Linked DNA regions of Homo sapiens. The protein of the gene in region 4 purifies or fractionates together with the protein of the main gene of each other region. This does not show direct contact. Each region holds a gene or a part of one and is shown on either strand. Other genes may lie near its edges.

Region 1 (3,500 bases), on a different chromosome or scaffold from region 4:
AAGAATACATACAAATGGCCACTAATACATGAAAAGATGCTCAATGTCACTAATCATTAGGAAAAATGCAATTCAAACCTACAGAGAAGCCAGGCGTGGTGGCTCATGCCTGTAATCCCAGCATTTTGGGAGGCCAAGGCAGGAGGATCACTTGATCCCAGGAGTTCAAGACTCGCCTGGGCAACATACGGAGCATTCATCTCAAAAAAGAAAATCAAACAGAATTACTGTGTGACCCATCAGTTCCACTTCTGGGGATACACTCAAGAGAACTGAAAGCACAGTCTCAAAGAGATACCTGTACACCCATGTTCATAGCAGCATGATTCATCAGAGCCAAGAGGTTGGAGGTTGCAGGGAGCTGAGCTCGTGCCATTGCACTCCAGCCTGGGCGACAGAGAGAGACTCTGTCTCCAAAAAGAAAAACAAACAAACAAAAAAACACTACAATGACAACAAAGAAATTCAGGCACATAGTATGCTATGGATATACCTTGAGGACATTACGCTAAGTGAAATAAGACAGTCACCAAAAGACAAATACTGTGATTCCATTTATTTAAAAAAAATTTTTTTTTTTAGATGGAGTCTTCCTCTGTCACCCAGGCTGGAGTGGAGTGGTACCATCTCAGCTCACTGCAACCTCCACCTCCTGGGTTCAAACAATCCTCCCGCTTCAGCCTCCTGAGCAGCTGGGACTACAGGCATGTGCCACCACGCCCGGATAATTTTTGTATTTTTAGTGGAGACAGGGTTTCACCATGTTGGCCAGGCTGGTCTCTAACTCCTGACCTCAAAGTGATCTGCCCACCTCAGCCTCCCAAAATGCTGGGATTACAGGCATAAGCCAGGGTGGCCAGCCTGTGATTCCATTTATATGAGGTCCTGGAGTAGTCAAATTTGCAGCAACAGAAGGTAGAATGATGGTTGCTAGAGGCTGAGGGGAAGAGGAACATGGAGTTTGTTTCAGTATCGCAAGTCATGGATAGTCATGATGGTTGCACAACATTATGAATGTACTTAATGACACTGAACTCTACATTTAAAAATGGTTACAATGGTAAATGTTTTTATGCACATTTTACATAACAAACAGCGGTGTAGCACTTCAGCAGAAACCCTGTAAGAAACTTGAAAAGCTCCTGACAGAAATGCCTTTGAGGATGCACAGTATTGGAGTTAGAACTACCAAGATTTCACAAGGAATTACTAAGTTAGCAAGGATGTGTAAACTAAAAATAAAATTCTTGGCCGGGCATGGTGGCTCATGCCTGTAATCTCTTCACTTTGGGAGGCCAAGGCAGGTGTATCGCTTTGAGCTCAGGAGTTCAAGACCAGCCTGGGCAACGTGGTAAAACCCTGTCTCTAAAAAAAATACAAAAATTAGCCAGATGTTGGTGGCTCACACCATGTAGTCAGCTACATGGGAGGCTGAGGCTGAAGAATTGCTTGAGCCCGGGAAGCAGAGGTTTCAGTGAGCTAAGATCACACCACTGCACTCTAGCTGGGGAGACCCTGTCTCAAAAAAAAAAAAAAAAAAAAATCTAAGTCCTCATCCATACTAAGGACCCCTCCTCTTGGCCAAAGGTATTCCAAAGGTAACCTGAAAAACTACTTCAGGTCATGATGGGAAGTGGCGGTCAAATATGTCTCATTTTATCTTCCTGCCTTTGGAAGTCAGACATAACTGATCATCGTAAGACTTTTTTGTAGCAATAAGACACCAAGTTCCAGCCTAACTAATACAGTATGGAAAGAAATCAAAGTATTTTACCCTAAAATATATTTCTCTGACATATTTTGAAATGGCCCTGCAAAGCTATCTCTTGTGGGGAAAAGCTACATTCTACAGAGATTCCCTTTCCAGGTCTTTTCCCTGATTCAGGAGAGAATTAACTAAGAGTCTGGCACCTTTTTAAGTCTGATAAGAAATATTTACAATCTATTTTCTCTGAAGCCTGCTACCTGGAGGCTTCCTTGATAAACCCTTGATCTCCACAACCCGTCTTAAGCAAAATATTCCTTTCTATTGATTCTAGGTCTTTAGATAACTCTTTCAATCAGAAAATCTTTTTTTTTTTTTTCTGAGTCTCATTCTGTTGCCCAGGCTGGAGTACAGTGGCATGATCTCGGCTTACTGCAACCTCCGCCTCCTGGATTCAAGTGATTCTCCCGCCTTAGCCTCCCAAGTAGCTGGGATTATAAGCACCCACTACCATGCCCAGCTAATTTTTGTTTTTTGTTTTTTGTTTTTTTGAGATGCAATTTCGCTCTTGTTACCAAGGCTGGAGTGCAATGGTGCAATCTTGGCTCACTGCAACCTCTGCCTCCCGGGTTCAAGCAATTCTCCTACCTCAGCCTCCTGAGTAGCTGGAGTTACAGGCACCTGCCACCATGCCCGGTTAATTTTTGTATTTTTAGTAGAGACGGGGTTTCATCATGTTGGCCAGGCTGGTCTCGAACACCTGACCTCAGGTGATCCACCTGCCTGGGCTCCCAAAGTGCTGGGATTACAGGTGTGAGCCACCACACGTGGCCTAATTTTTGTATTTTTTGTAGAGATGGGTTTTGCCATGTTGGCCAGGCTGGTCCCAAACTCCTCAGCTCGATGCAATCCGACCACCTCAGCCTCCCAAAATGCTGAAATTACAGACGTGAGCCACAGCACCTGGCCAGAAAAATCTTTAAATGTGTCTATGACCTGGAAGCCCCGGCTTTCAGCTGCCCTACTTTTCCAGACCACACCAATGTACGTCTCACATGTATTGATTGATATCTCATGTCTCCCTAAAACGTATAAAACCAAGCTGTAGCCCGACCACCTTGGACACATGTTCTCAGGAGCTCCCGAGGCTGTGTCATGGGCCTTTGGTCACTCATATTTGGTTCCGAATAAATCTCTTGAAATATTTTATAGAGTATTTTCATTGACAGATGGTTGCTAAAATGCAGGTGGCAGAGCCAGCTGTGTTCTACCTATGACAATTTTCTGTGGCGCTCACCACCTTGCTCATGGAGGGGGGCTTTACCCATTGACTCCTGGAGTCATTCAGTCTCTGTGACTAATGCCTTTCATTCTACAACTTCCCACATATAAATGTGGCCTGGCTGGCTCAGTTTTTCCCTGGACAGTCTCCAGACATTATTTTCCTTCTGTTTCTACAAGCCTGTTTGCAACAAATCTTATGACACAAACAGATTAATTTCAACGACCATCACAATGTTGAATTTTTTTCTCCCTCAACAGATAAGCATTTTTTACACATCTAAGCCAAGATGCACAAAGGTCAATTATGCTGCAGGGCATTTGAGAAGGGGGTTGGTTCAGTTGCGAACTGACCGCTGAGATGCAAACCCCAGTGTCTGGTGGGAGGGACAAGGCAGGGACTTTCAGATTTTACTATAAATGCTTGAGTATTGCTTGAATCCTTTATGCTAAGAATGTATTTCCACTCTTCCTTAATGAAAAATAAAATTTAAAATTAGCCAGGCATGGTGGC
Region 2 (3,500 bases), on a different chromosome or scaffold from region 4:
AGGTAATTCCTGAGGTCCCTTCATAATACACACCTTCTATGTACATGTTTTGTTGGTTTCATGTAAATGTATATTATTCAAGTGATTGTTATTGTTCAATAAACTGTATTGTCTTAGTCTGGTGAGACTAATTTTTCATAAAATCTACTGGAAGGCCTTACAGTTCATTTAATTCACTTCCCTCAGTTTACAGAAGAAACCAAAGCCCAGAGAGGTTAAAAAATAAAAGGCAAAATTGACGGTTGAGACAGATCTGGAATCCAATTTTCCTAATTCCTTGTACTGTGGGCTTTACCTTAACAGGCCAATAAAAGAGGGAAAGCAATTAGAAAACCAAAAGATATTGTCTAGATGAATTCAAATGTATTCTCCTTTAAGCAGAAAGTCAATATATTTTAAAACTAAGGCAGAAAGCTGGATTTTGAGGGAAAAATCCCAGGAAAAGAGTACATTTACAGAGAAAACTATTTGTTTCTCTCCCGTTTTTTCTAACATCAACGTGTTTTCTTGCTTGCATTATAAATGCAGCCATTTATAATTCATTCATTCACACCTACTGAAATCACAAACTCTTGCCCCAGAATGGTCTTGTTTGACTTCCAAACCAGAAAGCCAGGATTAACTCCAGGTATTCAAGTGGGACAGAAGGAGGTTCAATACATCAGAGGATTACTTTCATTTGAGTTGGCACCCACGCTATCAGGCTTTCAATTTCACTAGGCAGCATGGGGCTTATTTACTTTCTAATTGACAGTTTGAGGTCTTGTTGTTTCTTACCTGGAGTTCAGCCTGCTGTCCATCAAGAGTGCCCTTCACAGCCTCAACATCTGGCCACTTCCCCTCCTCCCAAGGAGACTGTGGACAGTGTAAAACATCAGCCCTGTTTTATACTGATGCTTGATGACATCACAATGAGATACAACATCAGTCACGCCTGAGGCCCACAGCAAGTCCCAGAGGATCCAGGTGAAAAGGACCTTATTTCTGCAGAGATCTTGAGGCCAAAATGGTGTGTTTTAGGCCAGAATTAGGATATGAGAAGAAGTAAAAGTGTCCACTGTATCCATGTGTCCATGCCCACTGTAAAAGTCCCATAGTTGGGCATGAGTCAAGGTGAAATGAGTATATAAGCAATGAGGCCCTGGAACCTTACCCATGAAAAAGACCTTTACTACCTCTTACATGCTAGCTCCTCATGCTGTAGTCTAATACATTTTGCCCTCTCACGATTGACACTAAAAGGTATTAGAGACAGAAATGGGGGTAGTGAGGGCTAACAATGGAGACCTAAAAGAGCCAAGGCTTTGGCTTCACAGTTCTCTGTAAGAAGTAAAGTACCTAGGGGTAGACAGCAGCAGCCAGACACATACATGGAGGGGCTTTCTGTTAAGGGGAAGTCCACACAGTCACACTGTCCTTGTAAAGAAAAAAAGAAAGAAGTGTTTTCCTGAAACTGCTTATCTAATCATATAGGAAGGGCTACAACTTGATTCCACTTTCCATAAAAGAATAACTCTTTTAAAAATCAAAGCTGAACAGTGGCCAAAGCCTGGCCCATGATCCTGTGTGGCTTGTACACTTTTCAAAGAAAGAATATTATCAATTTAGACGTCAAAGCAATGGAGATCCAGAAAAAGCCCCGGATGTACAATGGGCCACATCTTTGGGTGGAGGTGGGGAGGAGGTGATTTTTTTAAGGAAATCCATCCCAGTGTTCCCTTAAGGGGCGCTTGTTAATTTTTTACCCACCTGCACTTTGTGCTTGGGTTCATGGTAGACTGCCCTGCTTTCTCCCAAGGTCCTCTCTGCCTGCCCCCAGGGTGACGCTAGAGGCTGATGGGTGGAGTCATAATTGCACATTAATTATAAGACCTCTGTGAGATAGTTTGGTTTGTGGTTTCTAAGGTTAAGGGGCCTTCAGGAGCCCGATGGATATTGGAAATATGGGAAATGGCTGGGAGGGGCTGGTAAGTAGTGGTAAGCTCATAACAGATATGGGGACTGCAGGGAACGGAAAAGTCAACGCAAACAAGGCATTCGAACTGTTGAAACAAACAAACAAAATACTGGGCAGGCCGACTGAAATACATCCACTGGCCAAATCTGACCCAGAGGCCTGCGGTTAGTAAACTCGAATTCATCCTTTTCTAATACAAAAAAAGGACACCGAGGCCTCAATAGAGGGAGCCATTTTCCCAAGGTCACACAATTTACAGTCAGACCTGGAATTCAGACCTTCTGATTCCCACTGAATATATTAAGATGGCACTCACAGTGCTTCTTAAGATGAGAAAGATGATTCCTGGGCAACCTTCTCCTTTTGGGACCATTCCATTCCCTGCTCCAGCCCAACCTTTCTCCTGCCAATTGTTGCTATTTATTGGCATGATGCTTCCCATGCTGAGTATGTTCACCACATGATGCCCTCAATATTTGCCAGCTGCAATTGTAGGCCCCTCAGTTCTTTGCAGAGCAACCTTTCCCTTCCTACTGTGCCAAGTTCCTATTCACACAAGGCCGTGCAGCTGGGAACCAGATTTGTCCTAAAAGACTTTTTCCTCAGCTTAGTGACACTGCTCTCTAACTAGAAGCATGGAGTATAAACAAGAAGGGTTGAAAGAATTCAGTCTGCTTTCTGTTTGAATCTGAGTTGGAGTTAGCTTCCAGAGCTGCTTTTGCAGATTCCTTCTGGGAAGGTGGAGGACATGGACATCCACAGCAAACCACCCATTCTTTCCTTTCCAGCTTCTTGCTTTCTTGTACTGCTGATAGAGGGGCTAGCCATAGGATAGGGAAGGGGTGTGCAGGTATAAGGTGGCAATGGTCACAAGCTCAGAATTTTATTTGGACTGTATTGTGGTGCAGGGATGGCATGTGGAAGGAATGGGATACCAAAAGAAAGACTCTCTTGCTTCCAAACCAACTCTCTTACCAACCCTCCATTTGCCTGGGTATCTGCCATTTGAGTTGCTCCTTTTGGAAGAAGGCATGGAAGGTCCCATTCAATGCATTCTTTAGAAGAGAATAAAATAAGCTTTCGCTAGTCCCTAACACCTTACCATGAGATTAATTTATCAGATTTAGCAGAAAGTGAATGGGACACAATACATAAATTTGATGGTGGGGTGGGGAAGAACTTGCAGTATTTCTCAGTAGGGGTGACACTGGCATTTTGGGCAGACAACTCTTTATTGTGTGGCTCTGTCCTGTGTATTTCAGGTTGTAAAACCTGAGAAGCCAGAGAACATAAGAACACTAGGTCCTGGGAAAGAAGTTGTCTAAGTTGTTTATGAGACTGGCAAAGGGTATTTTTTCACTATGAACATTCTTGAAGAATAAGTATTGTCTGAGAGATTCATGCTAAGCAGAGTCAAGGCATGGTCTGTTCAGGGACAGGTGGGGTCTCTGTAGTGTTAGCATTAACAGACTGGATGGAAGATGAAGCCATCTGTGTGACCAGAAAGGCACCAGACCACCCCAAATTTCCATGTTAGCCTGCC
Region 3 (3,087 bases), on a different chromosome or scaffold from region 4:
CCAAAGTGCCGGGATTACAGACATGAGCCATGGTGCCTGGCCCAATAAAAATCTTAAGAGCTTTGCTCAGTTACCTGGTTGAGGTTTATGATGCTGGATTCTATTTCAAAAGTTAAAAATCTAGGTGTCCTAAGAAGTACTACTAGGGCAACTGGCCTTCTCTTCCTGCCTTTTTTGTAGTGTGCTGACAAGTTCTTCAGGATTCATAATTCTTTACCTCTAAGGAAGCTGCAAAAATGGAGTTAACTATTAAATATACAAAAAGCACCTAACAATGATCCCATAGAAAATTTTGGTATAGTTACAATCTAGTATGAACCGTTTGAAGACTGGTGAGGAAATTTAAAGGTCTAATCCACCAGGTACTGTGAAACTATCCCTGTGGAAGTTTAAGTGGTCACAAAAGATGTAATCTTCTTCTGTCCCCTAACAGGAAGGGAACTGAAATAGGAACCACTGGAAATATCCTGAAGGGGGAAAGAAGAGGAAAAGATCAGATATCAATATTTATTAAAATCTTTATTCATTTTCTTTTTTCAGAATTGAAACCCATAGAACACATTAGAAATTTAGATCCATATCTGTCTTGTTTGGTATCTTACCAAGTACAATCTCTGTCTGTGCAACAGCTCTGAGAGGAAATCCTTGGCAGATCAAAAGAGAGGGTAGTGGCTCCCACACTTTCCATTTAAGCAAATAAATGAGCTTCTGAGTAGTTGTTCCCAGTTTCACCCAACATTTTGTGTTTATGAGAAACACCTTAGTTCCTAAAAACCTGTGGTAGTCCAGTACCTAGCCCCTACCTTGTCACCACCCAGACTTGAGGAATTGAAGGGAAAAAAACTGGCCTTCCCCTGTAGGATGAGTTTCCCAAGGCCAGATGTGCCTGGCTCACTAGTATGTCTGGCCTGTGCTGGCACACTAGAGTTGCTCAGTAGTTATTCGCTGATGAATGGTCTTTATGTTAATTAGGGTCCACTCTCAGAGACTGAGAACCTTTCACTAAGGTTCTTTCTGAATCCTTCAGAAAGTCAGTGTTCCCCTTTGTCAAAATAAATATGTTTTTCTTGCTAGAATACATATACGACTATATACATTACATATACTTTTACTCATGTTTCCTGAAGCTCAAACTCACAGGATGAGGCATATAAGATAGCTTACTGATGATGCTGTTTTACCATCATTGAGGTGTGGTCATTTACTGGTCAAAGAATACACGGGTGATCGAGAAGAAAGGCTGAAGAAATATGGCGGATGGGAAGGGAAGGGAAGGCAAAAGCATTTTTTTTTTTTAGAAAAAAAAGATCGATTTCTTTGGAAGATAATGCTGGCTTCAGATGACATTGAAAAATTGCCACGTATAGGACTCATCTTTCCCAAAATAATATGCAATTAATGTACCTGAATTCTTCCATTTCCTTCTTAAATTTCATTTGACATATTAACCCTGAGTGCAAACAGGGGGCAATGCCTTATTAATACATTCTTGAATAATACTCTGAGCAAATCAGATCCTATGAATTTGTTTTACACAGAAAATTATTTACATTTCCCCCAAACCCACAATGCAGCCTTACACTAAAGAACAGTTTTATAACAAAACCTTTATACTCAAATTTATCCATTCGAACTTTAGAATAAACATGTTTTAACAAGTTGGAGGAGGGCAGGAAATGGCCATGAGTTCTGATTTTCCTAGTTTTGTAGTATTAAAATGTCTCCACGTCTACCTTTGGATGTTTGGTAGGCATACCTAACTTACAGCTGATCCAAACCCTGCAACGACTTGATTGTAACAGCCTTAGATTCTAATAAATAAAGTAGGACAGTGTTACAAAACTTAAAAAAAAATTCACCTCCTTTTTTTTTTTTTAAGACAGAGTCTCGCTCTGTCTCCCAGGCTGGAGTGCAGCAGCACAATCTCAGCTCACTGCAACCTTCGCCTCCTGGATTCAAGTGATTCTCCTGCCTCAGCCTCCCGAGTAGCTGGGACTACAGGCGCATGCCACCGTGCCCTGTTAATTTTTGCATTTTTAGTAGAGACGGTCTCACCATGCTAGCCAGCCAGGCTGGTCTCGAACTCCTGGCCTCAGGTGATCTGCCTGCCTCAGCCTCCCAAATGCTGGGATGACAGGCATGAGCCACGGCACCCGGCCCCCACCTCTTCTTTCAAACAGTGTTTGAAATTTTAGGGCTTTCTGAATTTTAGAGCTGTAAGTTTATGGTTGGTTTTCTCCAAGATTTGCCTAAACATACTTTTCCAGCTTACTCCAATCCTGACTTACAACAAAAATTTATATTTTTAGTGCCATGTCATACCACTCTATTAGCTCAATTCTAACTTTATGGATTAGAGTTCTAAATTTTATAGATGAAAATTCTAAATTTATCATCAGAATGCCTTTTAAGATCACGAGTTTGAAAACAGATGGGAATAAAATGAAATGATATATTTTCTGCAAATGCTTTCAAGAAAGGATGAGACATTTTCTTTCCTGCCTGCTTTTTTCCTTAGCAGAATCTTCTGCCTTCAATGTTATGAAGTTCCCAGTTTCAGAAGACTTCTTATTCATTTCAGTGTGGCATACTAAAGGCGTCATGTATTTGAAAGACCACAAATCCATAACTTAGTTCAACTAACATTTACAGGGAGAGCAGAGATGACATCTCTTCCTATTGTCTCCTCCCAGCTGGCTCCTGGAAGCTTGTGGGTGAGCACTAACCAAGGTATTCTCATACTGAGCTGTGAATTTCCCTGGACACACAACACTGAGTAGCCTTAAAACTGAAATCAATGCCTCCTTTGGTTAACACGAATTCTGTGTTTTGTGCTAGTCTGTCTTCTTAAATTCAATACACGCTTTTTATAACTCAGCCCATTGTTCTGTTCATCTCAAAATGTATATAAAATGTACAAAAGTTTCCTAATTTCATGCCATTTAAAAATAGTTACAGGTTATTACTCAGTTATCTTTCAATGCAAGAAAACTGGGCATAAATTCTAAAGCTGTTTTTGAGAGTGGTTGCCTAAAACTAGTTTCCAATGGCTGGCATTAAATGTATTCAACCACACTGTTTATATAT
Region 4 (3,500 bases):
TCGAGAAAAAAAAAAATGAAAGAAACTATGGAACTTTTTATATTACTAGTGTTCTGCTCGATAGTTTTAAAACATTATTTTTTAATTGACAAATATCTACTTTACTTTTTTTTTTTTTTTTGACACGGAGTCTTGCTGTGTCGCCCAGGCTGGAGTGCAGTGGCGTAATCTTGGCTCACTGCAACCTCCGTCTCCCAGGTTCAAGTGATTCTCCTGCTTCAGCCTCCTTAATGGCTGGGATTACAGGTGTCTGCCACCACGCCCAGCTAATTTTTGTGTTTTTAGTAGAGATGGGGTTTCACCACGTTGGCCAGGCTGGTCTCGAACTCCAGACCTCAGGTGATCAGCCCATCTCGGCCTCCCAAAGTGCTGCGATTACAGGAGTGAGTTACCACGCCCGGCTTACATTTCAATCATGTTATGTTAGGTCATTTCAACATGTGGTTTAAGAACAAGATTTGATCAATAATATAACAATCTGGATTAAAAGAACTCTTCACAGAAAATTCTAATGATAGTCAACATTTGATAATTTGCCCAAATATAATGAAGTTATTAATGTCTTCAGTTTTAACAGAAGTATTTAACAAAAATACTCACCCTCCTGTGCCAATGGATCTCTTTTGATGGTTTTTCGAATCATAATAGCGCTGTAGGATCATAGCACTTCTGCTTTTCAAATATCCAGTCTCCACCTCAATATAGTTCTCCAAATAGGAAATGAAAATGGATTTGATAAGCTTAGACAAGAAAGTCTGTTTATCAGTACCTAAATTAAACTCCATCAGCTTGCTGGAAAGATTGGTGGTTCTTTTCATGAAAAAGGGGGAGAAAAAGATTAATATACATTTTAGGTATAGTAACAATATTAAGGAATACAAATTTTTACAACGTGACTTTCATGACTTATGTTAAGCCACCATTTCTTAAACTCTGGGAGAGTACTTATGATGCAGAGATCAACTCTACAGGGTTACATATAAATACAGTGAAATATTACGAACAACTTTACGGTTTTGAGAACTGTTATAAATTCCTAGGAAAAGAACTTGTGAGGCAATTAACTAGTCCAGAAATGGCGACAGTGGCAGATTGGCCTCAAGTATGTCTAATGCCATTCATCACATGGGACCCAAAACAGAGTACTGAAAGATCTACTGTCTGTTCACCCTCTTTTGTTTTGTCCTTGTGGACTTTCCCTCTAATTTTCTATTTCCCATTGCTGAAGATAGGGTCATAACAGTGTTGTTGTTGAGATGGACTTCCTCATTACGGTAACTTTGGAAAAACCTTCTCCCAAAATGAAGACACTGAAGAAGAGTAATAGGGTTGGGAAAAGTCAAGGAAAAAAAAAACCCCACAAGACTCCATATGAAGCTTCTGAGACAATCTCTAAGAGTAACACTGACATTTACAAAAGCACAAGACAAATTCCTACAGAAGATTTAGAGCTGAAATTGTCATTTGTTAAGATTACATCACTTCCTTTTGCAGTTTCTAAAGTTTTGACTGCAGATAAATGTAATTACACTAATGCTTAGAGAAAAAATAAAGCATAACATCCAATTCCTGACGTTAATGTATTAAGAATGTTGTACAATACAGTCTTGTACAATATAACTAGTCTATACAGCTAAGCATTTAATGCTAAAAGGTAAACTGGTGACAAACTTATTCAAAAATACCTGAATACTTCCTTGTTTTTATCAAAAAAATTTAAAAAATCTGTTATCTATTATTTTCTAATCATTAAAAATTTACCTTGTATACAGATCATAGAGATTTTTGAGATATTGCTCTGCATCGGACTTCCTACATTCTTCTAACTGCTCTTTCACAAAACTCTAAAAGAAAAAGGTTAACATTCTGTTAATTAGGTAAATATTAAATTCTACAACTTCTCAAGATATTTTTCTTTTAAAATTCACTCCACAGTTTTGAACCTTTCTGACTTACAATCCAATCAAAAAGGCAATTACAGAAAACAAACCAATCATAAAATATTTTAAAACAGGTTTTTACATTTTACCACTTCTCATATTTACCTGTAGAGGATCTTTATCAGTCTTAGGAATAATACCTTTTCTGTTAAATTGGCCTATTCTGCTCTGTGAGGTGCATCAAAAAAACAAAACTGAGAGTACAAACAATAGAGTCAATTCCTTAAGGCAGCATCTCCCAAACTGAGTTCCAGGTAACACTAGTGTTCCTTCAGATGTCTATAGGCATTACTCCAAAACAGGGTTTCTTAGACAGTAAATGTGTGAAATGCTGTACATTACATCCCCACTTCTAGAGAATGACAATACTATCAAAATTCCTGAATTGTGTTAAAAAAAAAAAAAAGCAAACATTTATTGAATGTTGTTTAATCCAGTTGTAAACAGCTTAGGAAATGTTATCTGAAAGTACAGTGATATGGGGGTAAATTAAATTTCTGTGTTTTCCCTTTTCAGGTTAGTACCATATTATTAAAAATTCTACAGACTGCTCTTGTAATTCTTGTTCAGTTTCACAAATGACATCTATTGGTGAAGGCAGGGACCAAAAAAAAAGAAAAATCTTCAAGGCTATCTTACCACAATATATTATACTACTACTACGAATACTACACAAATTTCAAGCATGTTCTCTGATGATACTTATTGATTAGCACTTTCTTCTTGGTGAATACAAAACATTTTTTAAAAAGCATGAGGATTCCTTTCTCCTTAACTAGATTACTATTTCTAAGGTCATTACATAAGTAAACTAAATTTTAAAAATACTTTTAAAATATAGGGAAAAAATTACATATTGCTTTAAGAACTATTTAATTTGTTACTATTTAAAATTACCTGTAGTTTGATTTCAAATACATTTTGAATAAGTTTAGCCAGGACTGTTTCTGGATTACTGAAGATATCTCCAACTTGTTTGTTCACTCTTTGACAGAGTATTCCAGCGTCTTCAAATATATCATTTCTCAAATAAGCACCCTAAACAGCAGAGACATTTTATACAGTGAACATATAATTTCTACATGATTTTAAAACAACAATTAGCATAAAATAATATCCAACAAAGTGTACTGTTATGTTACCTCCTGGCACTGCTTTATATAAACATCAACACAATGGGAATAACCCTACAAGGAAGAAACACATTGTTATTATTCTGATTCAATTATAATAATTATTATTTCAAAAAAAGAAGTGTTATATGTCATAAAGCTATGACTATTTACCAGTAAATGGCCAATAGCAACACCTGTTGGACTTAAATAAAATTAACTGCAGAAAACCAGTAACTTGATAAAGGTATCGTCTCCCTAGTCACTTTCTATGATAAAATTTATCAGTTGGTACATATCCTTGTTGAACTTTAGACTAAAACAAGAAAGATGAAGTATGTAACTGAGTTCTTTAGAGTAATTTTTGTCCTATGATCATCTAGCCATCTCCTTCAACTCCAAAACACACCCACTCACACCCACCCACACACATACACACAAACACACA
Region 5 (3,500 bases), on a different chromosome or scaffold from region 4:
TACTGCAGGAAGACCAGGCTCAGCTTGCAGCCCACCTGGAAACCGCAAACAGAGGAGAGGAAAGCATGACCTCATCCGGTAACAGCAGCTACCAGCAGGCAGTGCCGCTCCAGGACACAGGGCGCTTGGTATCTGTGCAAGGAAGGAGACACCGGTGCCATTGGGAAGGAAAGTGATTAACACAGAGGCCAGGGCGCTGGCCAGGAATGCCTGCTGGTGGCACTGGGACCTTTGTATCCGCGGCTCCAGAGGAGGATCACTGCAAACGCAACTGTGAACAGCACTGCCTGAGGTGAGCGCACTCACTGCTGGAGGGTCCTAGACAGGCCGCACAGCTCCCTGGCCCTCCCGTTCTCAGCTCCTCCCCTCGGCTACTCCACTTCCCCTTCTCTGACCTGCTTCAACACGGGAACCCCCGCAGTGGTCCTGCCGGCCAGCAAAGAACCAGAAGAGCCGGCAGGAGGTCATGTGTGGGGCGAGGTATGGGTGGCAGGGGCCCTGCAGGGGCCCAGGGCTCTGGCCTCTGTCCCTTTGTGTGAACAGAACACGAGTGCAGGTAGAGGGCGCGGCACATGCCAGCTGCCCTCACTAGCAGCTCAGGTGAGCAGCGCCTGGGAAGAGAAAGCAGTGGACCCACACCAGGCCCCAGACTTTTTTTTTAAATTTTTGACAACTATGTAAGTTCCTCAATTGTAAAAAACTGGTTTTAATATTGGGTAACTTAACTAAACATGAAAAAATAAAGGGGAAAACAAGAGAAATCTAGCAAATAAAATATTTTCTGAGGACATTTTAAAAGGATTTTCACTGGGAAAGAATTGCATTATTATATAAAATCCATCTATTTTAATCTCTCAGACCTTCATCTAACTAAATGTACCAGGCATTTCAGCTTCATGAGCAACCATGAAACTGCTACTTTTAATCACTAAGCTTATATAAAGTGTGCTGAAAAAGAATAGTATTTTCATTTCCATTCTTATTTCTGTATTTATGTTCATATCTATAGACATATGTAGGTGGGTGTACATACGTATGGCAGATATATATCTGATACATATATCAGATGGATACACCTATACATATTTGTGGGTGGATATACTTACATATGTATGGGTGGATATACTACCTACATATAACAGATGGCTATCCCTATAAATATATACGGGTGAATATACTTTTTTATATATGGGTGGGTATACTTATATATATGGGTGGATACACTTATATATGGGTGGATATACTTTCATATGGTGGCCTTTCAATTTGGCCTCCGGGGTCCTGAGAGCCGCTGAGCCCTGCAGGCTGTCCCTGGCCTCCCCTGAGCCCTGCAGGCTGCCCCGACCTCCCCTGAGCCCTGCAGGCGGCCCCGACCTCCCCAGTGCTCTGGATCTGCCTTGCCTTCCTCTGCTTTTCCTTTTTCCCAAGCATAGCAGGGTGGGTGCTTCATTTTCTGAGACACTGCACAGGTGAGAGTTACCCTTATTGTCCATCTTTGCCACCAGAGTAAGGCGAGTGCCTGCACGCGGATCTCGTGTGTCAACGCCTGGTGAATGGACACTCAGATCCCAGCAAGTTCTGCCCTGGGCATCAGGACAGAGCCTCTTATGTGGAAAGACACACATGATAACACAGCCATGGATGCAGGAGAGTCACAGTAAGTCAATTTGTGACTTACTGCCACTCATTTGAAAAGTAAAGTGAAATAAATCAAGTTTTAAAATCTCTGGGAGGTGAGATTCTGGGAGTTAGTCACCCATCGGGATGCAACGTGCCTTCTTTTGTCTCTCGGTAAAAGACCGCATCTTAAACACAAGGAGTAAACTGCAGATGAACCAAGACACAAATGAACAATCTCAGAATAGAAACCTCTTAACCAAGACGGGAAATCTGAAATGAAAACAAGAAGTGCTAAAAGGATGGAAAGCAATTTTGGTTATATAAACTTTAAAAGCTTTTAGATGGTAAAAATACCATAAAAATACAATTGACAAATCATGAATCTGGAAACATATTTACAATAGAAATGACAAATGTTTAATTTTTATGACGCCAATATTACAGATGAATGCGGTGTTTTAGAGGGCCGGAACAGCTTGTGGAAAGATGCCAGTTCTCAGCAGGTGCGCTGCCCTGGAGTGTGCATGAGAGCCACAGAGGCAGTGCCAACGCCCACCAGACAGGCAAAATGGTAAAACCAGTCAGGTCTTTGGGCTCTGGTGTGATCCCACGTGCAGCTGTCAGCTGTCTCAGCCTTTTGGAAGGCAATCTAGCAAAACAGATTTACTACAATTTAAAAATACACATGCAGCCGGGTGCAGTGGCTCACACCTGTAATCCCAGCACTTTGGGAGGCCAAGGCGGGGGGATCACTTGAGGTCAGGGGTTCGAGACCAGCCTGGCCAACATAGTGAAACCCCATCTCTACTAAAAATACACACACACACACACACACACAAAATTAGCTGGGTGTGGTGACACCTGCCTGTGATCCCAGCTACTCAGAAGGCTGAGACATGAGAATCGCCTGAACCTGGGAGGTGGAGGTTGCAGTGAGCCGAGATCCTGCCACTGCACTCCAGCCTGGAAAACAGAGTGAGTCTGTGTCAAAAAACAAAACAAAACAAAACAAAAAATAAAAATATGCATGCCCTTTGCAATGGGCTGGAGGCTTCTTTATGCTGCCAGAATTCACATGTTGAAGCCCCACCCGCTGTGGGAGGGTGTTAGTGGGTGGCGCTTTGCGATGGGATTAGTGCCCCTGTAAAGGGACCCCAGCAACATCCCTCGCCCCTTCCACCACGTGAGGACACAGAGAAGTCAGACCCGAATCTGGTGGTGCCTCGGTCTCAGGCCTCCAGAACTGAGAAGTAAATGTCTGCGACAGGAGCACACGTGGATGGAGACACCCTCTGACCTGGCAACCTCACTGGCGAGTTCCACCTGACAGAAATAAGAACACCAGTCCATAAAGACGCATGTCCGGTGATGCCTGCAGCGGCAAAAGAGAAAAATAAAGTGCAGAGCAGGCCCCATACCAGAGGATGGGCTACGCGGAGAACACCATGCCACATGAGGGACCGTGTGCCGCCTGAAAGCAGGCGCCGACCTGGTGGGGCCCTGGCACATTCTGCTGAAGGAGCAAAGAGGACGCAGGAAGAGTGTGCTGAAGACGATTCCATTTTCTTCTTAAATGGGAACAAAAACATCTCTGCATTTTTTCCCATGTGCCCATTCACCAAACAAGCACACTGAGGAAGGGAGGTCTGGGGAATGACAAGGCCTCTACTGACTTCATTTTCTACAGTGTGACCTTCAAACCTCATTACACAGGCTCCAGAGCACCACAGGAGGGGCCCAACTCCAGGGCCAGTTGCCACCCACAGGGTTGATGTGAGGAACCCCGGCCAGGAGACCCACCAAGGCCCGGTGCCCAGTCAACAGCTGGTCCCTCCTCAGCCCCGTGGCCTTGTCGGGGAGCCTCTGTGTGAGCACGTGAG
Region 6 (3,500 bases), on a different chromosome or scaffold from region 4:
AGAACAGCTGAGTAATCCGGTATATATATAACAGATCTCTTTTATGGGGGCTCTGAGAGCTAAGTTGTCAGGCATTCCCTATATACTTGTCTGGCTTCCAGTATTCCTTCCTAGTCATCTCATGCACATTCTCGTCCCCTTAATCTCTCACCTCCAAACATTGTAGAGGGAGGGAAGGCCTTTATTCCCATTCCTAAAATAAATAAATAAAAATCAAGTGTCATTTATCAGTTATATGGTTTAAATTATTGGATTATTTTCCCAAAAGAATTAAAATATAAACAAATATGCTTTCATTTGAAACCATAGATAGTAGTTCATGTATTTTTTTGTTTGTAGAGGTAGAGAAGGAAAAGAAGTATAAAAAGAGGTCCAGGAGGCCGGGCGCGGCGGCTCACACCTGTAATCCCAGCACTTTGGGAGGCCGAGGAGGGCGAATCATGAGGTCAGGAGTTTGAGACCATCCTGGCCAATATGATGAAACCCCGTCTCTACTAAAAATACAAAAAAATTAGCTGGGCATGGTGGCGCATGCCTGTAATCCCAGCTACTTGGGAGGCTGAGGCAGGAGAATCGCTTGAACCAAGGAGTCGGAGGTTGCAGTGAGCCCCACTGCACTTCAGCCTAGTGACAGAGTAAAACTCCGTCTCAAAAAAAAAAAAAAGAGGTCCAGGAAAGCAGGATACATTAATACATTACTTCTTACCTGTTCAGTCCAACCTGGCGACAGAGCAAGACTCCGTCTCAAAAAAAAAAAAAAAAAAAAAAAAGAGGTCCAGGAAAGCAGGATACATTACTTCTTACCTGTTCAGTCCTCCCCTTCTGCAAATGGCCCTTCTGAGACCCAGCGAGTCTTCTGCCCTTATCAGGCCGTAACTCTATACAATTTGGCCCCTATGAGTTCTTTCAGATCTGTGCATGCTTGTATTTTTGTTAACTATGATTTGGGGATGGAGCAGGAGGAGCAAGAGGATTAATTTGGAAAACTGGATTACAGAGTTCATGACCCTGTCTCTGAGACTTGTCCCACTGTGTGCTGTTATATGGTAGAATTTGTGGCAGTGCTAATGTAACTTGCACTTGATCTCACTCAGGAAGTGTGGAGTCTGTGTTTATAGAGAACTGGGGAAGAAAATCACCATTTTCCCGAACCCTTTCCCCAATATCTCTGGGCAATCCCTTTGGGTCCAGCCCAACCCAGCCCAGCAGGGACAAGTCTGTCTTAGGTTAGGTTGGGCCTGACTCTAGAAAGATTTGGTGAATTCTCTACTTTGATTATATTTTATGGTGCCCTGAGAGTTGGCTGAGCCTAATTTTACTGTTGAAACTCACTAGGCAGCTCTGCAACAGGATTCTTCTGGGGTCCTCTGGACCCAAAGTGGTTCTGGACAGCTAAGGCTACTGAGATTCTGCTTGATTTGTTCCCTGGTGATGCCAGTGCTGCCAGGTTGAGGCATATATGGGGAAGGGTGGACGTTTGGGAGGGTTGTGTGTGTGTGTGTGTGTGTGTGTTTTCAAATGATTGTGGGGAAAATCACCTTTCTATAGTCTGATCTGTTAGCGAAATAGTGTTTTCACATCATGAGGCCTTCCGTGGCCTGTTGAGTAGAGGTTATCCTAGTCTTCAGTGAGTCAGAACTTCTGTATTTTTCTGGTTCCTGGCCTTCTCTAGCTGAGAAGAACATCTGGGAGCATGACAAGGTGAGACCGTGATCACTCATTTTGTTCAGATTTCTTGTCTGCTGTTGAAATCAGCGAAACTCTTCATTACTAAATAGTAAAAAGTACTGCTTTTATGATTCTAAAACTACTTTCAGTTGTGGTTTCATTTCTGATTTTTTTCTTTATATTATTACTGCTAACTTTTTCTGTGTATTTTTAGTCTGAAGTTCTGTGAAAAATGACAACTTACTGTCTTTTTTTCTAGTAGTAAATATTTTGGAAAATTAAAATTGTGCCACAGTTTTAATTTGAGAAATTAAATATGGGAAAATTATAGAATTAAAATTTTCTGACTTCTGTTGCAGAAAACACTTTAAATCCATCCCTGTATGCTTCATTAAAGGAAAAGAGGCAGATGGTTTAAAATTAATATAGTATATCTATAAGGAAAATGTATTTACTTAAGTGTACAGTATAAATTGTAAGAAAATGTGGCCTTTTGTCTTGATTTTAGTGAAATGCTTTTGTAATAGTAATTTTCTCTTTTGACCTGTGATGGATAGGAGGTTAATTGATGTTAAATGGATGCTTTGTTAATCCTTCATCAGCTACTAAATTGGTATGGGGGAGTACAGGTCAAGACTACACAAGGCCATGACCAGCTTGTTTTCTCAGGGAGGTTTATGGATTCCACCCCTCCCCCTTCTCTAAACCACACATCACTCTCTCCAGCTGCACATAGGGAAGACTCTCCTGTCTCCCCTCCCCCTCTTCCTGCGGTCCTGTCTCCCCCTCCCTAACCTCATCCTTCTCCCTCTCTGGGCTGCTGCAGAGTGACAGCTTGTAGATGTTGCGTGCGAGGGAGTTCAGCTGGCGCTGTGTGGTCCGAGTGTGTGGTCTCCCGCTCAGCCGAGAGGCTGCTAACAGGGTGGATGAGAGAGAGAGCAACACTGTTTACTTTAATTTATTTCGGATGCCGGAATTGTGCCCAGAGTTTCTCCTGAGCTTGATTCCATAGCTAGCAGCTTCAATCCTTCGCAGCTGCGGTGCGTTCTGAACTCTGGGCTGTCCTTTCCTGACAGGCACTTTCCATAGCATCTGCCTGCTTAATCCCTCACGGCTCAGAAATGTTAACGGCACTGTTGAGTGCTGTGATTATTTTGCTTTCACTATGTCAAGATTTATGGCCTTCGAGAAGCTTCTTTTGAGATAGAGCTAGAGAAGGAAAGCAGAATTTGTAAGATCAGTGACAAAGTTGATGTATTTTTGGAAATTGGAAAAGCTATTATACAAAATTTGGGTCAAATTAATCCAACTTTGCTCATATAAAAGAACCTGGGAGTTAGCGACATCCTGTCATGTTTAACAGTTTTAATGAAATTAACCAATTTAAGCTGACGGTTGGTTTCTTGACCTTTTCTGAAACTCTGCATTGATTTTGGCATGCCTGTTTACCATAGTTATTATATTTGTCAGCGGTGATATTGGTTTATTTCATCCTAAAGATTTGACAAGTCGAGACAAATGAAACTTTGTTTTTATGTAGTAGTATAAATTTAGGAGAATATCTTTTTATCCAATCCTTTCATTATGAATAGCTTAGTAATATTTTCTTGATTTTGTTCCTCTCTCATTCCTGAACATTATTGTTGAGATGGTCAAGTATTTTGTTATTTGAATAAACATATGTAGACTCTTGATATCACTTGGGATTTTGCATTGTTTAGCTTCTTTATTTTCATGTCTTCCTGGCAGTCTTGCTGGAATGGAGTTGGTGGTGTTGATGTTTGTCAAGGATTAGAAAGTCTAGGCCACTCACATCTTCCCGCAAGGTCAGT
Region 7 (3,500 bases), on a different chromosome or scaffold from region 4:
TGGCTTGGGGTGCGGAGGAAGGCCCAGGGGAGACTGAAGGTGTTCTTGGGGAGAGGCCCCCAGGGCCAGGCCCTGACTAGAAAAGGGAACCTGGCAGGCAGAAAAAGGGGCACACAGGAGGGAAATGCAGTGACGTATTGGAGAAGGGAGCAGCCCAGGTGGCCTGGGGAGGGCAAGGCCTGAGCCCTGGGTGGCAAACACCAGCTGTAGCCGGTGAGGGAGGGCCTTCCACGCCAGGCAAGGAGTCTAGCCTTTGTCTTCACGTCAGCATAGAGACTTTAGGTCGGGAGTGATATGGAAGATCCGCCTTGGAAACATGACTAGGATGGGGAAACATCACAGGATCGGCCGCAGGGCTGGGGTCGCCCCGTGGAGAGGGGAGGGTGGCATGGGCCCAGGTCCCATCAGGGCTCCCTGCTATGTCTGGGCTTTTTTGACAGGGGCCTCTCCAGGGTGAGTGGTGTGGCTGAGAGGGTAAACACAGAGCTGGGTCTTTCTGAGCCTTAGTTTCCTCACCTGTAAAACCGTGCCTATTCCCCAGGGCTGCCCAAGAGCCCGTGAGATGCGTCCTAGGTGCCCTTTGTGGTGCCTGTCCCTGCTGATGGCACATTCCCAGGGGCTGCCTGTGCTTGGCACGTGGCACTGCCCAGGAAATGTCCCTCAGAGGACTGACTGGCAGCCCTGAGCCCGAGGCTGGTCCGTCTGGCAGGACCTCCTCGGAGGACGCCAGCTCCCCCTTTAGCCTGAAGGGGCCGATCCTGCAGGCCCCATGTCTCCCAGCAGGGCCCGGGACTCACATTTTCCACATTGATGTTGGCCTTCGCGCTGGTCTCCATGAACTTGATTCCATAGTCGAGGGCCAGCTGTGAGAGAGGGAGGCACACGCATGAGCACACCAGCCGCCGGGCGCATCTGAGCTTGCCTAAAACAGGAGCTGAAGGCAGGGCCGGCGCCAAGAGGGAGCAGCAACAGGGCTGGGGCTGTGGGCGTGACTTCCTGGATCACTCCCTCAATTCTATAGTGAATGCCCCTCCACAGGGCCTCACAGGGCATGGAGTTGCTGGGGATGGCAGCTGAGATGGGAGGGTGGCGGGGACCTGCTGGGATCAAACTATGGCTCTGTTCCCCGCTCCTGTGGTCTTGAAAGTCTGGAGCGGGGCCATGGTAGGTTTTGATGAGATGCCCGCAGAGTGCACCCAAGAAGCCCCGGCTGGGTGTGTGCTTCTGTCATCCCATGGCACGTGCCCCACTGGGGTGACCAACTCGTCTCAGGCCCCTGGGGCAGAGGAGGGACAGGGGAAGGCCTCTGCACAAGAACCCCAAGACCCCGAGGCCCTCTGCCCCTTGTGCCACCATGCCCACCTTTTCTCCCCGTTCCTTGGAAACTTGTCTCTTGTCATTCACATCACACTTGTTCCCGAGTATCATCTTTTCGACGTCTGCAGAGGCGTGCTGAGAGGGAGGGGGACAGACGGGGGATCAGACCGGATGACACAGGCCAGGTGCCTCTGCCAACACACAGTCTGTCCCCAGAAATCAGAGCGGTGGGGTCAGGACTGCTAGGTACAGCCTGGTCTAAGGGACAAGCTGAAGCTCAGAGAGGCCAAGCAGCCGGCCCCATGTCACACAGCCAATGCCAGGGCTGGGGCCAGGGTTCTAGCTGCTACTCTGAGCAAATGCACATTTTCTGAAATGCTTTCTGGCAGCTTCTATGGCTGTATCAATCAAGCCCCCGCACCTGGGATGCTGGGCGGGTCTAGCCTATGGGAGGTGAGTGAGGCTGAGATATTTACCCCCCGACCTTGGCTTTCCTCCTTCCCTCCCTGGCTCCTCTGCAAGAGGCCCCAGCTGTTGTCCTGGGACCTTCTGCTTTGACACTTTTTTTTTTGTTTTTTTTTGAGATGGAGTCTCGTTCTGTCTCCCAGGCTGGAGTGTAGTGGCATGATCTCGGCTCACTGCAACCTCTGCCTTCAGGTTCAAGCGATCCTCAACCTCCCGAATAGCTGAGATTACAGGCATCTGCCACCATACCAGGCTAATTTTTTGTATTTTTAGTAGAGACAGAGTTTCGCCATGTTGGCTAGGCTGGTCTCAAACTTCTGACCTCAGGTGATCTGCCCGCCTCAGCCTCCCAAACTGCTGGGATTACAGGCATAAGCCACCTCGCCTGGCCCTGACATTTCAACTATTTTTGGGCTCCAGAAACAGGCCGTGCCTGAGGTGGTCGCAACTCGAGGCCGTCACCAGCTGCAGGCACTTCACCACCCTGTCTGATGTTGCCCAAACTCTGCCCTCATACCCAAAGGCAGCTCCTTCGTCAAGTCTCCCTGGGTCCCCATGGAGCGGACCACGCTTCCTGGAGGACGGGGACACTGGAAACTGCTGTCTTCTTCCACCAGCTCAGACTTGGTCTCTGGAACCTACTGCGCCACTCCCTGCCTCACTTCCCATGAACCAGAAGGTGGCTCCTGCCCGCTGGCCAGAAACAGAGACCTTTCACAAAGACCAGGCTCTCCTCCTCTCCACGGATGAAGACAGCTTTCCCAGCTGGGGTGCAGCCCTGCACTGGCAAATTTGGCAGCACAGCCCTCTCAGGGTCACTGGGGAGGTGAGCCCAGTGCAATGACTCACAAATGATGGGGTGGCCTCTCGGCCTGGCCTGGGAGGTCCATGAGTCCTGGGTGGACAGTGATATGCCCTTTTGCTGTGGTTTTATAGATGGGAAAAGTTCTCTGGCTGTGCCTCAGACCTGAAGCCCCACATGGTTAGTTATAGAAAGCTGCAGGTGCCGGCAGCCAGGAAGGCTTTGGGGGTGAGGTCAGCTCTTTGGGGAGCAGAAGATGAAGATGCTGGCTTTGGGAGGGGAGGAGGGGTTGGCCTACTTCTCACTGCTCTATGGTTCAAGGTCTGAACACAGGTCGTTTGTACCAGGTCACACCCTGCTCCGATATAGCTCAAAGTACAACTGACGCCTGCTCACCACACCCTCCAACTACAAGGGTCACACCTGTGCTAGACCCTTCCTTCTCTAGAAAGCACCCAACACTCATGGTGACCACAAGCTTGGATATCCTTTCTCTTATAACCATGACACTGGCCAGATCCAACAGCCTAGCTGGAGGGATGGGCTCCGAGGGGCTCCGGGGTGGGGCCAGGCCAGTGTGTGGTCCCTGGGGCCGGCTGCTTGCATCTCAGTCCCTGCTCCCACCATGTCCCTGACTAGGAGGCTGTGGGCAAGTGGCCTGTATGTGTCTCTGCACCTTGGCCTTCTCATGAGTAAACCAGAGGGCTCTGGGACAAGGACTGAAGCAGGGACAGTGGGAGGAGCCGGAGGGCCTCACCTCCTCAATGTTGCGAATCCAGTTCCGGATGTTGTCGAAGGACTTCTCGTTGGTGATGTCGTAGACCAGCATGATGCCCTGCGCGGGGAGAGAAGACACAGGTGCCTGATCGGCTGCAGGCTCTGGAAGGGAGGCCTCAGCGGCACCAGAGAACAGTGG

What was found.
Region 1: the proteins of EXOC5 (region 4) and ARMC6 purify together in Homo sapiens (co-immunoprecipitation; one large-scale study listed by IntAct). This does not show direct contact.
Region 2: the proteins of EXOC5 (region 4) and VSIG1 purify together in Homo sapiens (co-immunoprecipitation; one large-scale study listed by IntAct). This does not show direct contact.
Region 3: the proteins of EXOC5 (region 4) and FAM20B purify together in Homo sapiens (co-immunoprecipitation; one large-scale study listed by IntAct). This does not show direct contact.
Region 5: the proteins of EXOC5 (region 4) and VIPR2 purify together in Homo sapiens (co-immunoprecipitation; one large-scale study listed by IntAct). This does not show direct contact.
Region 6: the proteins of EXOC5 (region 4) and EXOC2 fractionate together in Homo sapiens (co-fractionation; 4 studies listed by BioGRID and IntAct, with this or other methods). This does not show direct contact.
Region 7: the proteins of EXOC5 (region 4) and RAB8A purify together in Homo sapiens (affinity purification with mass spectrometry; one large-scale study listed by BioGRID and IntAct). This does not show direct contact.

Annotation. Positions count from the first base shown.
Region 1 is NC_000019.10:19,047,103-19,050,602, reverse strand, and holds part of ARMC6 (armadillo repeat-containing protein 6), read right to left. Parts: intron 1-3,500.
Region 2 is NC_000023.11:108,062,065-108,065,564, reverse strand, and holds part of VSIG1 (V-set and immunoglobulin domain-containing protein 1 isoform 2 precursor), read right to left. Parts: intron 856-3,500; coding exon of another isoform or gene 778-855; intron 1-777.
Region 3 is NC_000001.11:179,073,981-179,077,067, reverse strand, and holds the end of FAM20B (glycosaminoglycan xylosylkinase), read right to left. Parts: 3' UTR 501-3,087; downstream 1-500. UniProt on the Homo sapiens protein: Responsible for the 2-O-phosphorylation of xylose in the glycosaminoglycan-protein linkage region of proteoglycans thereby regulating the amount of mature GAG chains.
Region 4 is NC_000014.9:57,230,906-57,234,405, forward strand, and holds part of EXOC5 (exocyst complex component 5), read right to left. Parts: intron 3,128-3,500; coding exon 3,083-3,127; intron 2,979-3,082; coding exon 2,838-2,978; intron 1,845-2,837; coding exon 1,762-1,844; intron 811-1,761; coding exon 601-810; intron 1-600. UniProt on the Homo sapiens protein: Component of the exocyst complex involved in the docking of exocytic vesicles with fusion sites on the plasma membrane.
Region 5 is NC_000007.14:159,036,868-159,040,367, forward strand, and holds part of VIPR2 (vasoactive intestinal polypeptide receptor 2 isoform 1 precursor), read right to left. Parts: intron 36-3,500; coding exon 1-35. UniProt on the Homo sapiens protein: G protein-coupled receptor activated by the neuropeptides vasoactive intestinal peptide (VIP) and pituitary adenylate cyclase-activating polypeptide (ADCYAP1/PACAP).
Region 6 is NC_000006.12:683,140-686,639, reverse strand, and holds part of EXOC2 (exocyst complex component 2), read left to right. Parts: intron 1-3,500. UniProt on the Homo sapiens protein: Component of the exocyst complex involved in the docking of exocytic vesicles with fusion sites on the plasma membrane.
Region 7 is NC_000019.10:16,125,389-16,128,888, reverse strand, and holds part of RAB8A (ras-related protein Rab-8A), read right to left. Parts: exon of another isoform or gene 3,420-3,500; coding exon 3,342-3,419; exon of another isoform or gene 1,902-3,341; intron 1,453-1,901; coding exon 1,363-1,452; intron 864-1,362; coding exon 798-863; intron 1-797. UniProt on the Homo sapiens protein: The small GTPases Rab are key regulators of intracellular membrane trafficking, from the formation of transport vesicles to their fusion with membranes.